Homo sapiens: one gene and its partners. The protein of the gene in region 2 purifies or fractionates together with the protein of the main gene of each other region. This does not show direct contact. Each region holds a gene or a part of one and is shown on either strand. Other genes may lie near its edges.

What was found.
Region 1: the proteins of CLCN5 (region 2) and TMEM9B purify together in Homo sapiens (co-immunoprecipitation; 4 studies listed by BioGRID and IntAct, with this or other methods). This does not show direct contact.
Region 3: the proteins of CLCN5 (region 2) and TMEM9 purify together in Homo sapiens (co-immunoprecipitation; 3 studies listed by BioGRID and IntAct, with this or other methods). This does not show direct contact.

Annotation. Positions count from the first base shown.
Region 1 is NC_000011.10:8,961,377-8,969,172, forward strand, and holds the start of TMEM9B (transmembrane protein 9B isoform a precursor), read right to left. Parts: upstream 3,067-7,796; 5' UTR 2,938-3,066; coding exon 2,833-2,937; intron 808-2,832; coding exon 716-807; intron 1-715. UniProt on the Homo sapiens protein: Enhances production of pro-inflammatory cytokines induced by TNF, IL1B, and TLR ligands. Has a role in TNF activation of both the NF-kappaB and MAPK pathways.
Region 2 is NC_000023.11:50,093,516-50,099,759, reverse strand, and holds the end of CLCN5 (H(+)/Cl(-) exchange transporter 5), read right to left. Parts: 3' UTR 530-6,244; downstream 1-529. UniProt on the Homo sapiens protein: Proton-coupled chloride transporter. Functions as antiport system and exchanges chloride ions against protons. Important for normal acidification of the endosome lumen. May play an important role in renal tubular function.
Region 3 is NC_000001.11:201,137,385-201,144,493, forward strand, and holds part of TMEM9 (proton-transporting V-type ATPase complex assembly regulator TMEM9 isoform a precursor), read right to left. Parts: intron 6,568-7,109; coding exon 6,436-6,567; intron 1-6,435. UniProt on the Homo sapiens protein: Transmembrane protein that binds to and facilitates the assembly of lysosomal proton-transporting V-type ATPase (v-ATPase), resulting in enhanced lysosomal acidification and trafficking.

The DNA of each region.
Region 1 (7,796 bases), on a different chromosome or scaffold from region 2:
AAACATCACAATTCTATGGGAAGGAACACATTCATCCTGCTGTAATACAACTGCATCCCAACTGCTTCATGGCACACGTAGAAAAAGCTATTTGTCAGGTCTGCTGGGATAAGCAGAGAAGGCTGCTGGTGGCTAGTCAGTCAGGATCCCCCAGTCATCACAGGCCTGCCTGACTGCCCAAGGACTGAACAGGTCAATATCTTGGCACAACTGTAACTTCTTCATTTACACCAAATGGGAAACTCTGACTACATAGCTCATTTCCACTTCTTCTTGAGCCTTCTGACACTTTTAAACATAGCTTCCCATACTTGGCAATACATCATCAAAACCTACAAGTTGTAAAAATTATAACCCAGACAAACGAGGCTTGCTAACCTTCCACTGAAAAGCAAGAGGGAGAAAGGTCCCTCACCAAAACTTGAGGGAGTACAGCAAGATAGCTATGGGTAGTTTAGGTGCCACAAACCCAGTCATATGCTCCCATGAAACTCTGCCTACATGGGTCTTAGTGTTTTGGCTGTATACCTTTAGGCCTGCAGGCATCATGCACGTAGGGCCTCACTCTCACTTTTTCAAATGGAAGTAGAATTTCACATTTTTGCTTCAAATGAAATACTTAAAAAGAAAACTATGCATTTGATGAACATTCTGGGATAACACTGACAACCACAGAAACAAATGTGACAGGTAATTCAGTAATCCAGATACTTACCAATCTTTCTGAGATATGTTCTTATTATAAATATGCCCAGAATTTTCTTTATAGGGAGGGCAGATACATTTACATCTGACATCCTCGAAATTCTGTAACCAAAATGGAAACAGTATAGTGCGTTGACAGTTTATCATCAATATTTTTAAAAACTGTACCATATACATTTTGCCAAGCATCCTCTTTAGAATACCAAGTATTCTAAAATCATTCATTTAAAACTTTAACAGACACAGTTTTTAAAAGCCACAGTCCTTTATGGTAATGCCAATGAATCATTATATATTACATGTAGTTATTTTGAAATAATACCTAATACATGATCTAAGACTTATTAACCATATTTATGGGTCACATGACAATCAAATTATGTTAATGTTATTACCATCTATCTGCCACTAGAAAGACACATGGTAAGCAGATAGTTGTGCCTGTAAATAAGAATATTCATTACTAAAGGATGGGAAAGAAACTAAAAATTATTCACAAAAAAGGTCACAATTCTACCTATCATCCTTTCACCCTCTGGTAGAAGGCACTGACATTGATAAAACGGGTTGGGCCAGAGTCCCGTAGAAGGGATGAAATGTTAGAGGCACCCACCTACAACTAGAAAGGAAGTACACACAGGAAGTAGCCTGACTCTGAGATCAGTTTAGTATACTCTTCCCAGGAAACTTTGCTTCTAATTCCTGGTTGACAGACAGAACAACTACCAACAAAACAAGTTTCAAGAGGTGGAGGAACAGGTGACTAAGTATCTGGATAGAGAAAAGAAGAGATGCTTCCTCAGCAAAGGGGAATCTGTTTGAGAAGGAAGTGGCTTATCATTCCCCAGAGGACCTTGCCCACTCCTCCTATATACAGTGATATGTCTGGCAGAGCTATTGACAATTCACAAACGTATTCAGCAACCACTTAGTGAGCATTTGCTCTGTGTTAGATCTTGTGCTCAATAAGGTGGATTCAGATAAGCATAAGACATGGTTTCTGCCCATAACCAGGACACACCCTAGTAAAGGAGACTGAAAAATAAATACATGATCACAATACATAAAGTTATGAGGCAAGATATGCAGAGGGTGCCAGCAATGTTTTCAAAGTCAGGAGACGTGCTGCTGTCCCTGTTTCTGGTAGGAGGTAGAGATGGTTTCAAAAAGAATCTCTGAATCAAAAACATTTGCCTGCCTGTAACCTTTCCCCACTCCTACATTTAAAGATATTATAAATTAAAGCTCTTATTTTTAAAAACGCAATGTCATTCTGTTTTCCCATCATACTAATGTGAATCCCTTCTGTTCTCCCCCAATGATGAGCTAGCTCATCAAAGAGGAAGCACAGGTATGCATGGAGCTAGGGCAGGTCTGGAGAGCTGGGGCACCAGAGAACAGTATGAGGGAACTAGAAGGTCAAGAAATCGAACCAGGGAGGCCACAACCTCACCTCTCTTGCAGTTTGGTTCTTCCCTTACCCACTAAATTATCAGGAAGAGAGAAAGCAAGAAAGGCACCAAGGGACTCGTGGAGGGAGTTAGGTGAGAATATGAAGCAGGTGAGAGATGCTCCGTAGGCCCTATTGGGAGGGAAGTAGGCCAGGAGGGGCAAGTTCCCACCACAGGAAGGGAAGTGTTCAGGGGTGAGCTGAGCTGAGTCGGCCCTTGACAGGGAAGGCTCTGTCAGATGGGGGCTTCCTATCATTCTGGCTTGGGGCATGCGGGGCCTGTGAGGCTGGCGGAGGGCGCAGGTGGGCTGTCAAGAGCTTAGGGTGGAAAGTTAAAGGCTCTCGGAGGTGAAAAGGTTGTCAAGTGTAAGATGCGTGCAGCCGGGGCTGGGAAGGGAAATGTTAAGGCGGTGGGGGGCTGCTGTCCGGACTGTGGGCACTGTCGGGGCTGGGGACGACCGTGGGGCGCTGCCTGCCAGGCTGTCGGGGCTGAGGGCGAGAGTGCCGCCGGGCAGTCGGGAGGGGCGGGGCTGGTGGCGGCGGGGGTCTGCCGGAGCTGTGAGGCCAGGCGTATGGCTGTCAGGAATGGGCCAAGGAGCAGGTTGGCAGACCCAGTTTCCGCAAGGCCGGTGGTAGGGGAGGAGCTTCCGTCAGGAGCGAGGCTGGGCGGGACTCACCTTGGCGGCGTCTGACAGCTGCGCCAGCAGCAGCACGGAAAGCGCCAGGCACGACAGGCTGAGCAAGGAGCCAAGCCGAAGAAGGCCTCCCCACAGGGTCGCCATCGCTGGGGGCCCAGCGGTCCCACAGCCCGGAGCCCCCGCGACCGGCTCCCGGCTCGGGCTCAGGCTCAGGCTCAGGCTCAGGCACAGGCTTGGGACCCGGCTGGGGATCCTCCGCCCGCACTTCCGTCTGGACGCGAAGGCGTCACCGGGCGCGCCGGGTCAGATGCAAAAAGCATCCGCCCCGGAACCGGTTACCAGTGCGAAGGGCCGGGAGGCTGGGCAGTCCTGGTGCCCGCCTTGGCCTAGCCCCGGCCCCGGGACGGAAGGGGGCCTCTGGGGTGGCAGCCTGGGCCCAGTAGAGCTTTGCATCTCTTGGATATCTTTCCCGGGCGCAGAAGCTGCGGGGCTTAGGGAGTCGCCATTGCGCTGGAAAGTCCTCCCGCCCACGGAGACCCCAGCAAACTCCGAGTGTCACACAGTCGCCTCTGGCGACCCGTGCGGGCCGGAGCCGTTCGCGCACAGGCAGGGCGGGTGCTGAGCGTGGAAACGGGGCTGGAATTGGCCGAGCCATGCCTTTCCGGGATGCCCACCGCCAGTCAAAGGGTTGGGGGTGGTCTCTGCACCTTAAGTACTAACCTGCCGCCCACGCGCCTCCTGACCACAGCACCCCGTCGGCTTTCTAATTCTGTGAGCTGCCCTCGTGGGCGTGGCCTCCCTGTGGAGCTCCCCATGTGCCTCCCCTTGGTCCAGCCTGCAGCTAGGAAGTGGGTCACAGCGACGGGGCTGGGCTGGGCCAGGCCAGGCTCCGGGAGATGTGGAATTGGCGAAACAACTGCCCCAGTAGTATCCTCCGCCTAGGACTCCAAGAGGTGGCGAATTGGGGCACTACGCCCGGGTAAGGCAGTGCCTGTTCAGGGCTGCCGACCTGTCTCCCCAGGGCTGTCATTCTCAGCAAGTACTTTAGGAGTGCCTTAGATCGGCACATTCTCCCATTGAAATATTTTTGTTAGTGGAGACAAGGGAGGTAATGGCAAGGACACGGATCATCACAGCCCCTAGGGATTTGTTGAATGACCTTTGGCAAATCACTTCCCTTCTCTGGGCCTGTAGTTCTTGGCTGAATATGAGGGAATGGATTTCAAATTATGCTCCATGTAATACCCGTGTTTTTACCTCTGTAAACAGATTTTTTTGTTTTTTTTGAGACGGAGTCTCGTTCTGTCCCCCGGGCTGGAGTGCAGTGGCGCGATCTCGGCTCACTGCAACCTCCGCCTCCCGGGTTGACGCCATTCTCCTGCCTCAGCCTCCCTAGTAGGTGGGACTACAGGCGCCCGCCACCACGCCGCCCGGCTAATTTTTTTTTTCTTTTTCTTTTTCTTTTTTTTTTTTTGTATTTTTAGTACAGACAGGGTCTCACTGTGTTAGCCAGGATGGTCTCGATCTCCTGACCTTGTGATCCGCCCGCCTCGGCCTCCCAAATTGCTGGGATTATAGGCGTGAGCCACCGCGCCCGGCCCCAACAGATTTTTAAAGATGGTCTTTTCCCAATTTGTGGAAATGTTTTAACAGAATGCTCTCAATATTTTTCGCCCATGTGATTCTTAGATTCATGTGAATCTAACACAACGTATCTGATACTGTTCCCAACAGGAACCAGGGTGGCAGGGCTAGATGTCCTCTCACCAGACTGCCCAGTGAAGGTGCTGTCACTTTGATGAATTATCAAGGCTTTGTAGTGGGTCTTCTACTGGACAAAGGACAAACTGGAGACTCCCTGGATCAAATGTGTTGGTGAGGCACTGAATCTGATTGCTGAAAGGTGATTCAGCTGCAAGTTAGGCATCAGTTTAGGGTTTTCTAGGCTTGGCATCTAAAGGGAGTGCCTGCTGTAGCTGAAACCTCATAGGCCTTCTCTTCCTTCCGAATTGTTTTCAAGGCCTTGGGGGTACAGAGACTTAGAGAAAATACATAGTTGTGCCTCAGACTGATGGGCCTCATCTGTTTAATGGAGAAACACCAAGCACACTCAGTCTGGGCGGAATTTTAGAGCTCCATAGTATAACCACTATCTAGCTACATGTGGCAATTGAGCATTTGAAATGTGGCTAGACTGAATTGAAATGTGCTGTATAAAATATACACTTAATTTCAAAGACAATATTTTTAAAATGTAAAATATTTCAGTAATTTAAAAATATGGTTTAAATATTTTAGATATGTTGGGTTAAATAAAATATATTAGTAAAATATTTCACTTGTTTTTTGACCTCTTAAATGTGGCTGCTAGAAAATGTTATAGTGCTGTCAGGAAGTGCTGTTCTGGAATACAGAATGTGGCTGCCGTGAGTGGAGTGTGACTATGAGATAGTCGCCTGACTGGAGACAATGAAGCCTCAGGCCAAGGTAAGAGGGCTGACAAGGAAGAACTGGCACAACTAGAGCCGAATGTTTGGGGGAGGTATATGTCTGCCAAAAAATGAATATAATTTCAGGTGACTCAATAGAAGTGGAGGGATCAGTTTCTCTTGTTCTGCCCTGCTCTTATCTAGGTAACTCTTACTTTTCCTTTAGGTCAGGGTTCTTCTAAGCCAGAAAACCTTCACTGACTTAAGTGCACTCCTTTCTATGTTTGCATAGATCTCTTTCTTAACTTTACCCCATTATAGTAAAATTATGTTTTCACATTTGCCTTTATACCCAAACCTCCACCAAAATATTGTGAGCTCTCTGAGGGTAAGGACTTTGTCTTATTATTGTTATACCTGGAGACAGATTAAAACAATATGATGTTTGTGGGGACCAGGGAAAAGGGGAATGGGAGAGGCTCCTCTGGTTAGTCTAAAAGAAAAGTATCAGGCACCTACTTGAATCCTCATTTGATTTCTTTCTGACCATGAGAGGGGATGCTGAGATGCCCAAAGATGTGCAAATGGCGGGATCCGGCGCACCATAGTAGGCAGGGGAGTGAAGATTTCTCACCTCGGGTCTTCCTAGACCTTCAGGTCACACGGGAATTGTTCTGTTTATAGACGGCGCTGGCCTTAGTACTCACTCTCCCTCTATTTTCCTTGCTTCCTTATAACTAGGTTTCCCTACTCACTTCCTCAAAAAGAGTGATGTAGGTCCACGTGTACCCTCCCAACTGGCCTGGGTCCTCTCCCTTCTTTGTAAGGCCTGAAAAATTCCCTGGTGGGGGATGGTTAGAAAAGGAAGAGGAACCTTCTTTGTAAGTGTGCAAGTCAGAAGGGGAGGGAGAAAAGTGACAATTTATATATCTGGGACAAATATATCTTGGACCCAGGTTTTGCCACCTGTCTGCATCCCCCCATGCCCTTTCCCCTCCAGTGATCAAATAGCTCTCTGGATGCCCCTTAATTCTTCCACCCCATCCATTCTGATCTACCCAGCACTTGCCTAGGCAACACCAGTCCAGGAGAACAAATGGAGTTATGCACAACATTGGTGATTTCCTTGTATTGTGGCTCCAGTGGTTATGGCTGGGGACACACACATCCTTCCAGTTATTTCTGAGCATACTCTGGAAACGTCTTATGAGCCCTCTTCTTTATTGTGTGCACCCACTAGGATGCTCCCTCCTACTCAGCCCTGTTTAGTGGGATTTTTCAGCCCACTGTAAAGCCTACTGCTGCCTGTAAAGCCACCTAAGTGCATCACTTGCTGGTGTTCACCATGATAACAACAATTTATGGGGACAGAATATGTTTCTAGAGCTGCTGGTGCCACTGCTGATGTTACTGGGTTCCCTGAAATAAAACACCACAGTGCAGGTGAGTACCAAAGTGGGGAGAATTTTTAGTTCCTTTTAGAGGTGCTAAATCAATATTGTTGATTTCCCAGTACCTTAGAATATTTAATGAAAACAGGTCAGGTGCAGTGGCTCACGCCTGTAATCCCAGCACTTTGGGAGGCCAAGGCAGGTAGATCACTTGAGGTCAGGAGTTCAAGAACAGCCTGGCCAACATGGTGAAACCCCATCTCTACTAAAAATACAAAAATTAGCAGGGCGTGGTGGCAGGCACCTGTAATCCCAGCTACTCCGGAAGCTGAGGCACCAGAATCGCTTGAACTCAGGAGGCGGAGGTTGTAGTGAGTCGAGATCATGCCACTGCACTCCAGCCTGGGCGCATGGTGGCTCATGCCTATAATCCCAGCACTTTGGGAGGCTGAGGCAGTCAGATCACTTGAGGTCAGGAGTTCAAGAACAGCCTGACCAACATGGTGAAACCCCATCTCTACTAAAAATAGAAAAAGTTAGCCAGGCGTGGTGGCAGGCGCCTGTAATCCCAGCTACTCAGGAGGCTGAGGCATAAGAATCCTTGAACCCAGGAGGCGGAGGTTGCAGTGAGCTGAGATTGCACCATTGCACTCCAGCCTGGGCAACAATAGCGAAACTCCGTCTCAAAACAAACAAACAAACAAAACAAAAAAACTTAATGAATACAGTCCCTCCTAAGATTTTCAAATAAATGAAATACCACATTAATCATATTGTTTTATTTTTATCATTACATTAAAAATCAAATAGTATCACTAGGTTTATAATGAAAAACAGCAGACCCTGTCCCAGCCCTCCACACTCTCAGTTTCTACTCCCTAGATATAATCTCTATTCACCCAGCTACCTCTTCTGGTATTTATCTCCGTATTTCTAAATAGCATGCTTATACTACTAATTCTTAATTTTTCAGTTTGGGCCATTATTTTACTTTTTCTATAGGAAATAAGATATGTGTTTATACTCTGAAGACTGGTAATACACACATGTATTTCTCCATCTTCCATCCTTCAGTTTATCTATATCACCCTATATAGGTAGAGTACTATTCATTATACTATTATAAAGGTATGTAATTGATCCAGTTAGCATAATATGATTATATTTCCTTTATTTTGATTGA
Region 2 (6,244 bases):
TCAGAGGATTTCGTACAGAAGACATTTTAATCCCAATACACCATAAAGAGGGTACTAAGAATCCTAGTATTCATGGGAGGACCGTTTTGATTACCCATCCTCCTCCTTGTACAAAGTAGCTGTAGGCAAGAGGCCTGTCAAAGCCCACGACCTTACATCATTAAGAGCTCAAAGAGAGAGAAAAATACAGCTCCCAGCCAATTCTCACATCATCAGGAAAGTATCACCAATGTATGAGACAGGAACATTTAAGTAGCCACAATGAATGAGGTATCCGGGTATCTGGAACATCTCCAAAAACGCAAGCTGCCTCTTATTTGCCTCCTTATGGTAAAGAGTATTACTGAGTCTGTAAATGTGAAAATAACTATTTAATAAATCTTTTTAAGCAGTGGGCCTGCCAGTAGGGGTTTGCAGTTGTGTTTTGTGCTACCCTCCCCTGAACCTTCCACTCTGCCCCTGTGGTTTTCTGATCAGAAATCAATAGCTACCAAGTTTAGGGTCTTTAGAAACACACCAGACACCAGGGTGGATAAGGCTGTGCTTTATTACATGCATAATTACAAATCTGTGCTAAGTGAAAATGTATAAAGCAATGGCGACCTGGGTTTAAGCCACACAGAGAAAGGGCTGGACAATCCATTAACCCTTCTGCCAATGTCCATTCCATTGCTTTTAACATGATTGTTTCCATTTCTTACAATTTGCATAGCACTTACTTGTCAACTTGCTTTGAATTCATTGTCTCAGTTTATCCTCACAACAACCCTGTGAGGTAGGTAGGGCAATTAACACTATCCCCATTTTGCAGATGGGAACACTGAGGCACAGAGCGGTTAAGATCTCGAGGCTAGTTAGTAGAAGCATAGGGAATAGAAATCAGGTCTCCTAACTCCCCAGTCCACATCTTCCTTTTTAGACTATGTTGTTCCGCATGACTAGGGAGTAGAATAAAGCGAGCAGTGAGCCATAGCTCTGGTTCAGGCTATGCCTAGGAACAGGCGAGAATAAAGCTAAGAAAGCATGGCTAAGGGCTAGCAACACTCAGATAAACAACTGCTCTGGACAGCTCAGCACCAAACTTCCTGCGGAAACTTGGGCTCTATTAGCTTTGGTTGAAGCTACTTTCTGGATGCCTAGTTACTGCTGATGTCTAGACATTAGCTTCAGCTGAACTTTCACCAACTCTCAGGCATTAAAATGTCGAGTCAGACAGGTTTTCTTTGGCTACTGCAGTTGGAGCCAGCCCTACAAAGAGCTTACTACAGAGAAATTCAAATAGTGGCCCATGGGCCGGAACCCAGCCCCTCTGATCTTCCTGGCCTCATTGGCTCACTCAACAGGTGGTAGTTTTCCCATAGCCAGAAATGAATGGGCAGAGGTAAGAACAGGAGGCTGGCCTTGGTCAAATGAAGAAGAGTCACCCACATGACATCACTGTCCCCCTTAGCTGACGTGAGCAAGGTACTGACTGGGCCACCTCCTTTCTGGCCTATACCTGGTTAGCAGCATAGCTTCAAAAGAGTTTAAGAGAACAAAATATTAAACACATCATTTTAAAATCCTGAATGGAATAAATTCTTAATCATCACAAAGTCCCAAAGGACCAAATATATAATAAAAAGTAAATACATACTTATAAAAAAAAGCTGAGTGCTAAAAAGCCAGGAAAATGGGAGAGAAAGGAAGAAGAGGGGACAAAGTGAAATGGAGGAAGGAAAAGGAACACACTGGAAGGACCATGTATTTTGAGGTACCCTTAATGTGACAGTGAGGCTGAACATTCCCCTCTCAGGCCACACTCTCTTCTCGATTTTGCCAGATGGCATTTCACTCACCAAATCTTAGACTGCCCCTGAATTCCAACAGATTTGTACTAGTAAGTAATATAGTTTAGCAGTAAATACTTCATATGTCTGCCTTGAGATGCTAAAGCCCTCATCACCCCCGACAAGTATCAATGGCTTTGGCCCTCACAGAGGAGCAAAGCCCTGTTGGTCCCATCAACTCAGACGTATCTTCCAGTTTCTGTTCTCAGAACAATCCTCTCCCTCCCACAAAGTCCACATTCAAAACAACATGCCTATAATAAAAGAAAGAGAAATCTGAATTCAGCGCATGGTGAGGGGAGAGAAAGACAATGAGACAGACAGCAAGGTGGGACGAGGCAGAGAGAAGAGAGGCAGAGATCTTTTTTTTTTTTAAACTCTCATATTTTTATATTATCACATGCTGTTTTTCTTCAAAAGGCCAAACTTTAGGCAAAGCATTCATTCAATAAGTGTGCACACAGAGGCTGAAGGCCCTTTGGCAGGAACTAAGAGGTAGGAATTTATGACTGTAAGACTGGGCTGGGTGACCCGATAGGTCCCATCCAAGAAATGCAAACTCCACACGTCATATACTTTCTTTCTTGGGTGATTTGGCAAAATTAGACTACACCATGGAAAAACCAATTTTGTTCCCTACATCTATTCAAACCTTTACCCAGATCCAGATGTTTAGAAATGAGAATGTGGCCAGCAAACGTTTGGGGAGTAACTTAAAGTTGCTAACACCCATTGTTCTCAGAAATTCTCTCCTTGGAGCAAGCAACTGAAATATGAAACAGAGCAGAGTCAGCGATCACCCCAGGACAACTACACTGATTGAACTTCAAATTGACACAGCTACTGAGCTCTGATCTGAGGAACTCTTACTTTTTTTTCCATATATAAGGATGTACGAGGAGGCAGAAATATAAATTTAAAAAAATTTGCTATCAAAATTCAAGACAATCTATCTAAACCTTATAGTTTAGGAAATGGCAACAGATGCCACATTTCTTCATGAGCAGATGTCTTGGGTCGGCCCTATCCATAAAACCAGACTGCCCTTGAGCCAAACACTGCTTTGAACCACTCATTTGCTTAGAAAGCCTGGCCTTTGAAGCATTGCTTGACTTTTTCTCCCCTTGAGGCACACAATCAAGCAGTTTATAAATGCCAGAACATATGTTGTAGGGGTGTGGGATGGCTTTCCTTCCACCATCTTACACCATTCAAATATTTTCTTACCAGGGCTTTTTCTATGGCCATAACTTTTAGTTTCTTCTCCAAAGGGAACCCAGGCAATCCCAGAGGTGGCTAAAAAAATCAAGGTTTGGCTGGGTGCGGTGGCTCACACCTATAATCCCAGCACTTTGGGAGGCCGAGATGGGTGGATCACGAGGTCAAGAGATCGAGACCATCCTGGCCAACATGGTGAAACCCCGTCTCTACTAAAAATACAAAAGTTAGCTGGGCATGGTGGTGTGCGCCTGTAGTCCCACCTACTTGGGAGACTGAGGCAGGGGAATTGCTTGGACCCGGGAGGCAGGAGGCAGAGGTTACAGTGAGCCGAGATTGTGCCACTGCACTCCCACCTGGTGATAGAGCAAGACGACTCCTCAAAAAACAAAAAAACAAAAAACAAGGTTTTAGGACACTTAAGTTCAGACTACATATTTAGACATCAATTCTTTTTTTTAAAAAAGGACTCAATATTCTACCTCCCACTTACTTTCTAAATTCCTAATTTTTCTCCGGGTTTTTAAGAGCTCAATGTTCTATGCACCACCCAAAAGATGTTTTCCTGCTTCCTCTGAACTGATGGGTGGCTTGCATTTGGCTCTGATCCAGTGCAGGGGACCCAGTTCCTCACAAGACAGTGTGGTCAGTCATCAGTAAGTACTTTGGCAATATAAAATATGCTGGCTGTTTCAAGTTCTCACCATTGTCTTTGCTATCATTATTAAAAACTCAAGTTCAAAGATTGCACTGTTCATTATTTAAAAACAAAACAAAACAAAACAAGAGATAGTGTGGGATAACAAGTGCATCTTCCTACTTATCACCTAACAAAATAAACAATAATCAAGACTGAACCACAACAGGTGATTGAACTACTTAAAACATATAGCAGTGGTTAATTTCTATAATGGACTCTATTGCACACTAAGTTTTTGAAAACATATTTGCCCCCCTCACATCTGAATGCGTTCATAAGATCTTGGTTGTGAATTACTTCACGGCCTTAGATCTCACTAAACCCTGGTTACTTCATCATGTTCAAACAGAATTGAAGATCTGCTAAGAAATGTATAGTATGCTCTGCTCTTCCTGTAAAGGGTTTAGATTCAGCCTCTGGTGTCAAAACAATTCAACTGCTTTTCAGTTCAATCACAAATTAATCGTTTGCTTCACCAGCTGGTAAATTCAAAGTATCATCAATGTCAGCTTATCTACCAGAGGATATCTGTTCTGTGGATCTTACCACCTCTACTCCACAGCTGGGCTGAGCCAGGATGCTGTGGCCAGAGAAAGAGGAGAGCATTGGAATATGTTTCTAACCAAACATCCACGTAGAAATGATCTTTAAAGTTGCCATTATTTTGTATTATCAGTCCCCTGCTTTTTCCCTCCAATATAACGAATCATGCATTAACTGTTTCAGGTTCTTTAAATTCTTTATATTGAAGATTTGAAGATACAAAATATAGCAGTTTTACTTTTACAAATCTATAGACTCTCGTTCCTTTTATGGCTGGATGGCTACCAGCTACTCTTACTTGGAAAATCCTAACTCTGTTGAAACACTAATTGGCATTCTTTTGTAAACCCTTCCCTTGTGTTAGGCAATTTTCTCATTTAATACCAAAATAGTCTCATCTCGACTCATTAATTTTTAAATCACAAACCATCTAGTCTTTTGCCATTGAGGTATGTGGCCATTTGATGCTACTGACAGTCCTCCCTATACTGGCTGTATTTGTTGCTTAAGCATGTCCAACTGTTAAAGTGGCAATGGCAGAAAGAACATTTTCCTTCTCCTCAAGACAAGAAACTTCAAATGTCAAGGTGCTGAGCTAGCAGTTGAGAGCTCTAGCTGCAATTAGCCAACCTTTGAGCCAAACCATAGGACTGGACATATAGTGGATACCATATACCATAGCTACTTCTAGCATACAAGCTACAAGGATTCCTGAGAAGCTGAGGTTAATGAATGAGATTGATCAGGAGTGAGGTATCAAAGGGATATTGTCATTCTCTGGAGGGCCAATCGGTGCTTAGCATCTACAAAGTATACCTTGGCACAGTGTTATCTGATTTCTCTAATTTATTCTCTGAAGTAGCACCTTAACACTGGCTCATCTGTCTAAAATCAAGAACAAAGCCTAGAAGAAACACAAAAGCAAACTTGAGACACCCTCCTTATCGCTACTGCACTATGAAATATGACCAAACCTTTCATTGTCATTAAATACCAGAAATAGTAACATTTTCTGTTTTGCAAACTTTAGTGGGGAAGGACAACTAATAAGACAGGTATTGGACCAGAAATGTACAGATAAGAACTTTGATTTCTACACAATATACAGGGTAGTCAAGCCAAATAGTCTCATATGAAGGAATCAGTGACATGGAAAGGACAAAATATGTGGTTACTGAGCCATTACTATGATACAACATACCCCAGAAAGATTTTTTTCTTTTTCATTAAAATGCTAGAGTGATCTATTCACAAGGAGAAACTCTAGCGACTGCCTTGATTATTTTAAAGATAAAAATAAAATAACCCTTGGCTACCCAGTTCTGAGCAAAAAAAAGAATTTCAGATTTTGGAAAGACAAGAACTATGGGTAAAAACGTCCTAGAATCAGGGATCAGCAACTCTTAAAATGAGGTACACTGAAGTGTTTGGGGGTAGAGGGTTGGTGGGAATATGCAGAATGACCGCTGATTCTGGGCTGGAAGGATGATGAGAAGTGCTAGGAACAGAGCTATAAAATCATCCAGGCTGAACTCTTACCCCGGCAGTGAAATCTCACTGCCGTAGGCATCCAGTGTGGAAATGGAGGCATGGCAGCAGCAACTGGGCCACATGGCAAAGGAAATGGCTGTGTGTCACCTCTGGTCCATGTGTTGTGAGACTGCTGAGCCTTGGTTTACAATTTAACTAGCCCTGGGAGTTATTTTTTTTTGTAGTAGGAATGATTAACCAGGAGCAGCGCTCAATCCCAAACAGAGGATTTGGTACTAAGGAGTAAGAAGTGGAACAGAATGGAGGGGGAGTAATTGCACACAGGTAAAACTACAGAAAATGAAATAGTGGTTGGAATGATGATGGTGGCTCTGTAATTCCACCAAGTGTCCCCAGAGTGTGATTTTTTTTTAACTGCAATAAAGGTGGTATGAAATTGAGACAGGCACCTTTTCAATTGGAT
Region 3 (7,109 bases), on a different chromosome or scaffold from region 2:
CAAGCTTCAATTTAATGTAGTAAATGTAGTCATTGAGACTTTTTTCTGCTATACGGTCATTAGGAATTATAGTTACCAAATTATCTAACACACACACACACACACACACACACACACACACACACACACACAGAGTGAAAAGAAGTTTCATAAAACAATACTTAGTGTAATGCATTCTGATATTCTTTGCTCTGTTCCATTCCATTTTTTTAAAAATCCTGGTCATGACTCACAGAATTCATTTCATGACCTAATGGCTTGCTTGAAATACACTGGTTTAAGATTAGTAGATGGGTATGGCAAAGTTAAATAACACACATATAAAGCACTTACTATCCTGGCTGTCACAGAGCTAGGGCTCAAGAAATGTTTGGTTTCTTTCTTCCCTAGGAGCGATGACTAATATCAGAGCCTAGCTCTGGAAGCCACTAGGCAGTAAGGCTGGCGGCTGGCTGCCAGGAGAAAGCCTGTGAAAACTGCCATGGCTGCTGCCCCTCCTTCCAGTTCCATGCCTTCCCTGTTCACTGTGCTGACTGAGCTGGCCACAGTGCTAAGACCAAGCCTCCACCCAGTCCTGCCTCAGTGTGGCCGTCTACATGAGGTGGGCACTAAAGACCCATCTGGGAAGCTATTGGCCCACCGGGACTTGGCTCTGGGGGCTGGATTGCCTTCTCTTCTTCTTTCCATTCCCAATCTCATCCTTTCTGGGACCATCTTTCTCATGACAGGGCTCCAGTGTGTGTGTGGGGTGGGGTGCTACGCTTGGAAGGGTGGGGCAGCTTTAGCCCTGCCCTCCTTCCACTGCTCTGTATCTCAGGGGAGCGTCTTGAGAAGGGGAAGCCAGGGAGAGCCCAGAGCACAGCATTAAGGGAACATGCTGAAATTCACCACATTACCACAGTATCATTTGTTTTCCCTTCATGTAAAGTCTTAACAAACAGCTCCTAAGTGGGGGAAAGCTGCCACTGAGAGGCTGAGTTTCCATCGCTAATAGTCTGATTAAAAGGTATTAAAGACTCCACATCTGTTTCAGAGACAGCCCAGAGTGGGGCCTCATCCTTGCTTGCTCTGCAGCAAGTATGGTGGGTGGAAGTGGGAGAAATGCCACCAGTTCCTCCCCTCTCCCTCTGAGGCTGGGCCTCCGGTTAACTCGGGAGCAGAAGGGCAGTTAGGAGGGGAGGCGGGTGGAGCCCCTCCCAATCAGAAAAAGAGCTTGGACATGGATGGATTCCCAGGAGGTCCCCAGGGGGACCAGACCAGTGTGACTATGACAAGTGCCACTATGTGCCAGGCGCTCTGCTAGGCACTTTACACAGATTATTCCCAGGCTTACAACACTGGCAAATGGGTAAAACCATCCCCTATTGTAGCTGCAGAAACTGAGGCTCTGAAAGATGAATCATCTTGCTGCCCAAGGCTGCATGGCTGTTTAGTGGCCAAGTCGGAATTTGAACCCATGTACGTATATCTCTTATCCTAGGACCCAGCTGGATCCTTCTTTGGCTGGTTTCTCCTAAGAGGGAGCCAGCATGGACAACCAAAGAGACAGGCTGGTATATTTCCCCACAGCTAGAGCAAGAACAGAGCACTTCTAAAGGAACCAATGCTCAGGACATCAAGCGAGGCCCTCTTCTCCACACTGGAAGGACCCAAGTAACTGTGTGGATAAGCCCCAGCTGATCAAACTAGCCCTGAGCCCTTCAGGCCGTCCCAGATGAAACCCTCTTCAGTCTGCCCAGAAGCACTGGTTCTGAGCTGGCACTGGACTTGGCCAAAGCCTGATGACAAGGAGACAGGGAGAGTGAGAACCCCACCTCAGGCGGCTCTCCTCTCTCTGGCTGCTCCTCCTCCCTCCTCCCCAATCCCAGGCACAGGAGCATGACCAGGTGGTCTCATCACTTACCAGCCACTCAGCAAAGCATGGTCCTAGTGCAAAGCCCTTCAGCAAGAGGACTATACAGCCTCTCTGAGTTTTCCATGTTTGACCCAAGTCCTTGCTGCTGTTGCTGAGTCCCACTGCACCTCTGCTGCGAGGCTCTCCCTGACCCCTGCACGCTGCGGCTAGGGCCACCTTCCTATGACACACCAACTCATGCTGTTTCCCTGCCCAAAAACCCCAGCTGGGACCCACCTGCTCACAAATAAAACCCTGCTGGGCCTGACATTCAAGGGCACTCCCAGCCTCACCTCCCCCCTTACCCCCCAGCCCAGCCTCTGGCCACACTGGTCCATGCATCCTCTGTCTACCTGCGGTGATCCTCACTCAGGCCCTTGTGCACGCTGCCCCTCAGGCTTCCCTCCAGCAATCATGATGCTACTTAAGTATTAACACCTGATTGAAATAGCGCATTCTTAAGGACGAGCAAACACTTGTAAAGCTTCCATACACACGATCGCAACAGTTATGCTGAGGTAAACATGATTATGTGTATTCCAGACTTAGAAAACTAAACCAGGAGGTTAGCACCAAGGATAGTAAATGGCAGGGCTCGGCCCCTCCCAGGACTGTGATTAACCACAATGCTGTGCTGCCCCACTGGAGGCTCTAGAAGCGTCTGTTGAACCGCACATCTTTCTATTCTGCCCTCAGGGGAGGAGGCCGACTGGATTGCCCTCATCAGTGTGTCTGTTCCGTGTTTCACTGTCAGCTTCCCAGGGCTGGGGTCCTCAGAACACAGCTGCCACCCATGTGCAGACAGGAGGGGAGACTGCTCCTCAGTGGCCCGAGTCTTCTCCCCGGTGCCTGCATGTTCCAGTTCCCATCATCATCATCACCTTTCCTTGATTTCCCTGTATACTCTCTCCCAAAGGGGGCCCAGAACTCTACCCACTGCCCCAGCAGGGTGAGCACTTTGAAGACCTCTCCAGAGCTTGGGCCCATGCTGTGAGCAGCGACATCCCCAGCCTCAGAGAAACCATGTGTCTCTCTTCAAAGAGGGCCCAACCTGCACATCTAAAACAGCTCTGTTTGCCGTTTCTGCCCCAGCAAACATGCTTGCTTCCTCCTTTCAAAGGACGTCTGAGCCCAGGGATTATGCCTAATGCTGCTGGAATCCCAGGGGAGGCAGCGCCCAGCAATCAGGGCCTACTGAGGCTCTGCCAGCGCTTTCAAAGGGAACATGACAAGCTTTCATCTCCCTCCATGAACGGGGCTGAGGCTGAGGGGGAGGCCTCCTCTTCCTCTTCCAGTTCTTTACCCCCTGGGCAGGAGAGCTCCTGGTCACAGGAATTGGGGAGAAGGAACCAAGGGGTCCCTAACCCTGAAAAAATGCCCTGACCTCCAGATCTCACCCCTAACTGGGTCCCAGACTTCTGGGGCGTAGGGCCTGAAAGCTCCTGGAGCCTAGACAGAATTTTCCTTCTAAAGTCATCGAGTTGTACAGGCCTAGGCGAACTTTCAAGGAACCCAAGAGGCCATGTCCTGACTTTGTTCCTCTTGGGGTGAAACCCAGAGACATGGCTACAGCCTAGGTGCTGCTGCCGCTCAGCTGAATGCCTGCCCCCCAGCCCCATGTTTCCCCACATCCCTTTCCTCTGTGCACTGAGAGGGGCAGTAGATTATCCCTCGTCGTCCAGGACTAGGGCCCCCAGTCTCTGTAAAGACAAGCTCCTTGGGTTCTGTCCAGCCCCAATGCCCTGTTCATCCTCCCTGCAGTTCAGCGGTCACTCTCCCAACCACCCTGAGTGGGCACTGAAAATCCCCCTCTGCCAGGAAGCCTTCCTTCCCAGACTAACACAACGAGAAGGGTAACTTTCCGACCCCTTGTCTAGTAAAGAGGGGCCTCCCAAGGCACCTGACTTTTCAGCTGACCACCCGTCTTACGAAGCCAGATCTTACTGCCAGCCTTTACGTTTCCTGCTGCTTTACCTGCTTTTGGCCGTCTTGGGGCTTAAACCCCCGAGGGCAGACATAAGGTCTGTGCAAATCTCAACACTGTGCCACCTGCAGGTTTTCTGAATACACTGAGAAAAGCAGAGTTGCTGAACCACAGACATCTGTGACCTGGAGACCACACAGAATCACAGGAGGTGAGGGGATAGAGAGATGATGCCAAAGAACGGGACTGGGGGCACTTCCTTACCCAGCCAAGGGCACCCAATGAGATCTACCTGCCCCAGGCCACAACCAGCGAGAGTTGGCTGCACCCTAGGTCAGGGTATCAAAGAGATTAAACACAACTTTTTATGAGCTTTTAGAACCTCAGGTGAGAGGTGAGGGCGTGTCATCCTGTCCATCCCAGGGCCGCAACTTCCCCTACAGGAGGGAGCATGGCTCGCCAGCTTCTATGTGCTGCAGCCTATCACAGCCTACTGTCCTCCCAGGCAGTCCTGCCACAGTTACCAAATCTAGCCCTTCTTCCTCCCAAGGCCCCCTCATACAAACAGGCTTCAAATGAGGAGCACTCCAGGTCTCCTGGGGGTAAGAGAGACCTGGGTTCATACCCAGGGACGGCAAGCTGCTCTCCCCAAGCTGCCCTCCCTCTGGCTCCCTGGCTAGGATGGCAGGAGACATAACAAGGCCATGCCCCAGAGCCATGCATTCCACGGAAATCATTGGGCTGCATCTCTCAATTACTACCCCAGCCAGGACTGCAATTACCACATTACCCCTAATCGCTGAGTGTTTATTAGCGATGCTCCTCCCCTATCAGAGCTGCTATTACTCTACATTAATAACCAGGTAGGCACACGAGGTTTCCTCTTGAACACAGACCACCCAACTGCCAGTGCCACCACCTCCCAGGCCCTAGCTCCAATGGGGCGAGGCTCATCCCCTCTGCTCCACCTTCGGCCAAACTCATGTCAGCAGGAGGCTGGGGGCAAACTGGGAGCAGTCCAGGCATGTGCGCAGGGTGGGGCAACACAGCCCTCGAGAGCAGCCAGGCTCCCTCCCTGATCTGCCCTTCTCTTCGCTGTTCATGCTGGCCCAGACCCACATCACCCAGGCAGCTTCACACTTAGACTTGAGCCCCTGGGTCCTCTTTTTGGTGAGGAACTGGCTCATGGTCTTGCAAGGGAGCCCAGCCCACCTACCCCATAGTTAGACCACGCTGTCTACAGGAAGACTCCCAGCCTCCTCCTCATATTGTGTTAAATCTCTCTGTCCCTGGATGAAGCCAAGCTGTCTTCTACAAACTTCTGAAGGCAGCTATCATGCGTCTCCTTTAGTTGTTTTTCTTTTCCTTTAAGCTAAATGACTCTCAGTTTCTTCAACTAATTCTCTGAGGCCTAGCTGAGGCGCTTCCCGACTAGATATTCCTTATGCATACGCATGAGTTCACTCAGGGCATCCCTCCATCAGTCAATAAACAGGAGTATCTTCCAGCAGCAAGGCCCTGGGGACAGAGCTCAGAGTGGAAGCAGCAGCCAACCCCGCCTGCCTTGGCTCCACGCCTCTAAGCAGCCCGCTCTGCTGTCTCATGCACCCAGCTAGCTGGTACATGAGCGCATAAAGGGGGAGCCCGAGGCACACGGGGCTGTGCAGTCCTCACTCAGGCAAGATTCCCCTAGACCACCTGGGGAGTGCAGGGCTCATCACAACTCTGCTCAGCATGGAGGTACACCACGTCTCACTCCCACGAAGAGCCCTTCACCTGAGCCCTCCTGTCCCCCCGGGTTTCCTCGCCATGGTGTCCACAACTTTTTAGTATGAGGATGAATGGGAAGACGGTGACAGCGCTTGTTAACTGCACTGGGCCTGGTCCAAGCCCTGCCAGCTCCCCACCATTGCATGAACTCCTGGAGGCCTTGCAGGCTGTCTGGGGTCAGTGGTTCCCCACTTTCCTTGTCAGATAAAGCCAAACCCCCTTAGCTTGACATTTGGGACTTTTAATAATGTGACCTAAATCTACTGGCCAGCTCTCTTTGCCACTATTCAAACATCTCTACCCTATCCTTGCAACGCTCAAAATTCCTCACACATACTTGGCAATGTCCCCTGCCCGGCACCACTGTCTCATTCCTCTTCCGCTCTTGAAATCCTACATTTCTCCCCAGACCCTGGAGCTCTGGTTTGCATTGAGCAAGTGTTCAACAGATGTTTGTGGAATCACTGGACAAACAAATTAACCTGCTGCCGTCCAGTCCACCAGCAGCTTGTCACCAATGTCTGAGCACACGGGGGATATCATGTGTATCTATGTGTGACTGGCTCTGGCTGGCTGCGCCCCCTCTGCCTGGAAGCACAGTACAGCAGGATGACATGGCTCCCCCGGCTTGTACATGGAGACTGCTTGATGCCCGGTGTCCTGCTTCATCTGGAAGGGCAAAGAGCAGGTCCCTGCTGAGTCTGGGTGATGTGTACGACACTGACCAGAAGAGCAACTTGAAGCATTTTGGGGAGGTGGGACCTGGACCTAGGTGACGCTCCTCTGGGTTTTGCCCTGGGGACGCACATGCAGGGACCCAGGGCCTGGGCACTCAAAGCCCTCTTACCTCATTCTCCTCCTCATTGTGCAGTTGCTCAGTATATGCATCCGGCTTTCGGATCAGAGGGTCCACCAGCATCAGGAAGGCCATGTAGAGCAACAGGGCACCCACCACGGACAGGTAGATGACAATGATGACCTGAGGAAGAGACCGGCGTGCCTATGAACCATTATCTGAGGCCAGGGCTAGAAATCCGTTGCTAGTCTTGGGCCATCTGTGTCCGGCTGGCAGTGACTCCTCAAGTGGTGCACTAAGAAAGGACTTGGAGGCAACGTGGGCTCAGAGGGAAAGCATGCCCAGAAAGGAAAGGGAGGGCCCTACTCCACAGAGGAAGCACTCTGTCCTAACTTGAGGGAGTCTGCACAGCAGGCATCACGACAGCAGGCAGATGACAGAGGAAGAAGTCTGGAGCCTGATGCCGAGAGGCTCCCGGGGTAGAGATGGGAACACAAGGGCCTCCCTGGCTGTAGAAGAGTTCATGATGAAGGGTGGAAAGCAATCAGAAACTAAGAGCAAGGAAGAACAGGCTGTGGAGAGGCTGGAAAGCTGGGGCCAGGAAAAGTAAACCTGGGCTGGTGGGCTCATTGCTCCTGTGGAGAGCAAGACGGATGGGGCGCGCTGGCCCACTCATGGCATGCCCCTGAGCAGAGTGGCTAGGGCTGGTAAGAAGGTGTGTGCTG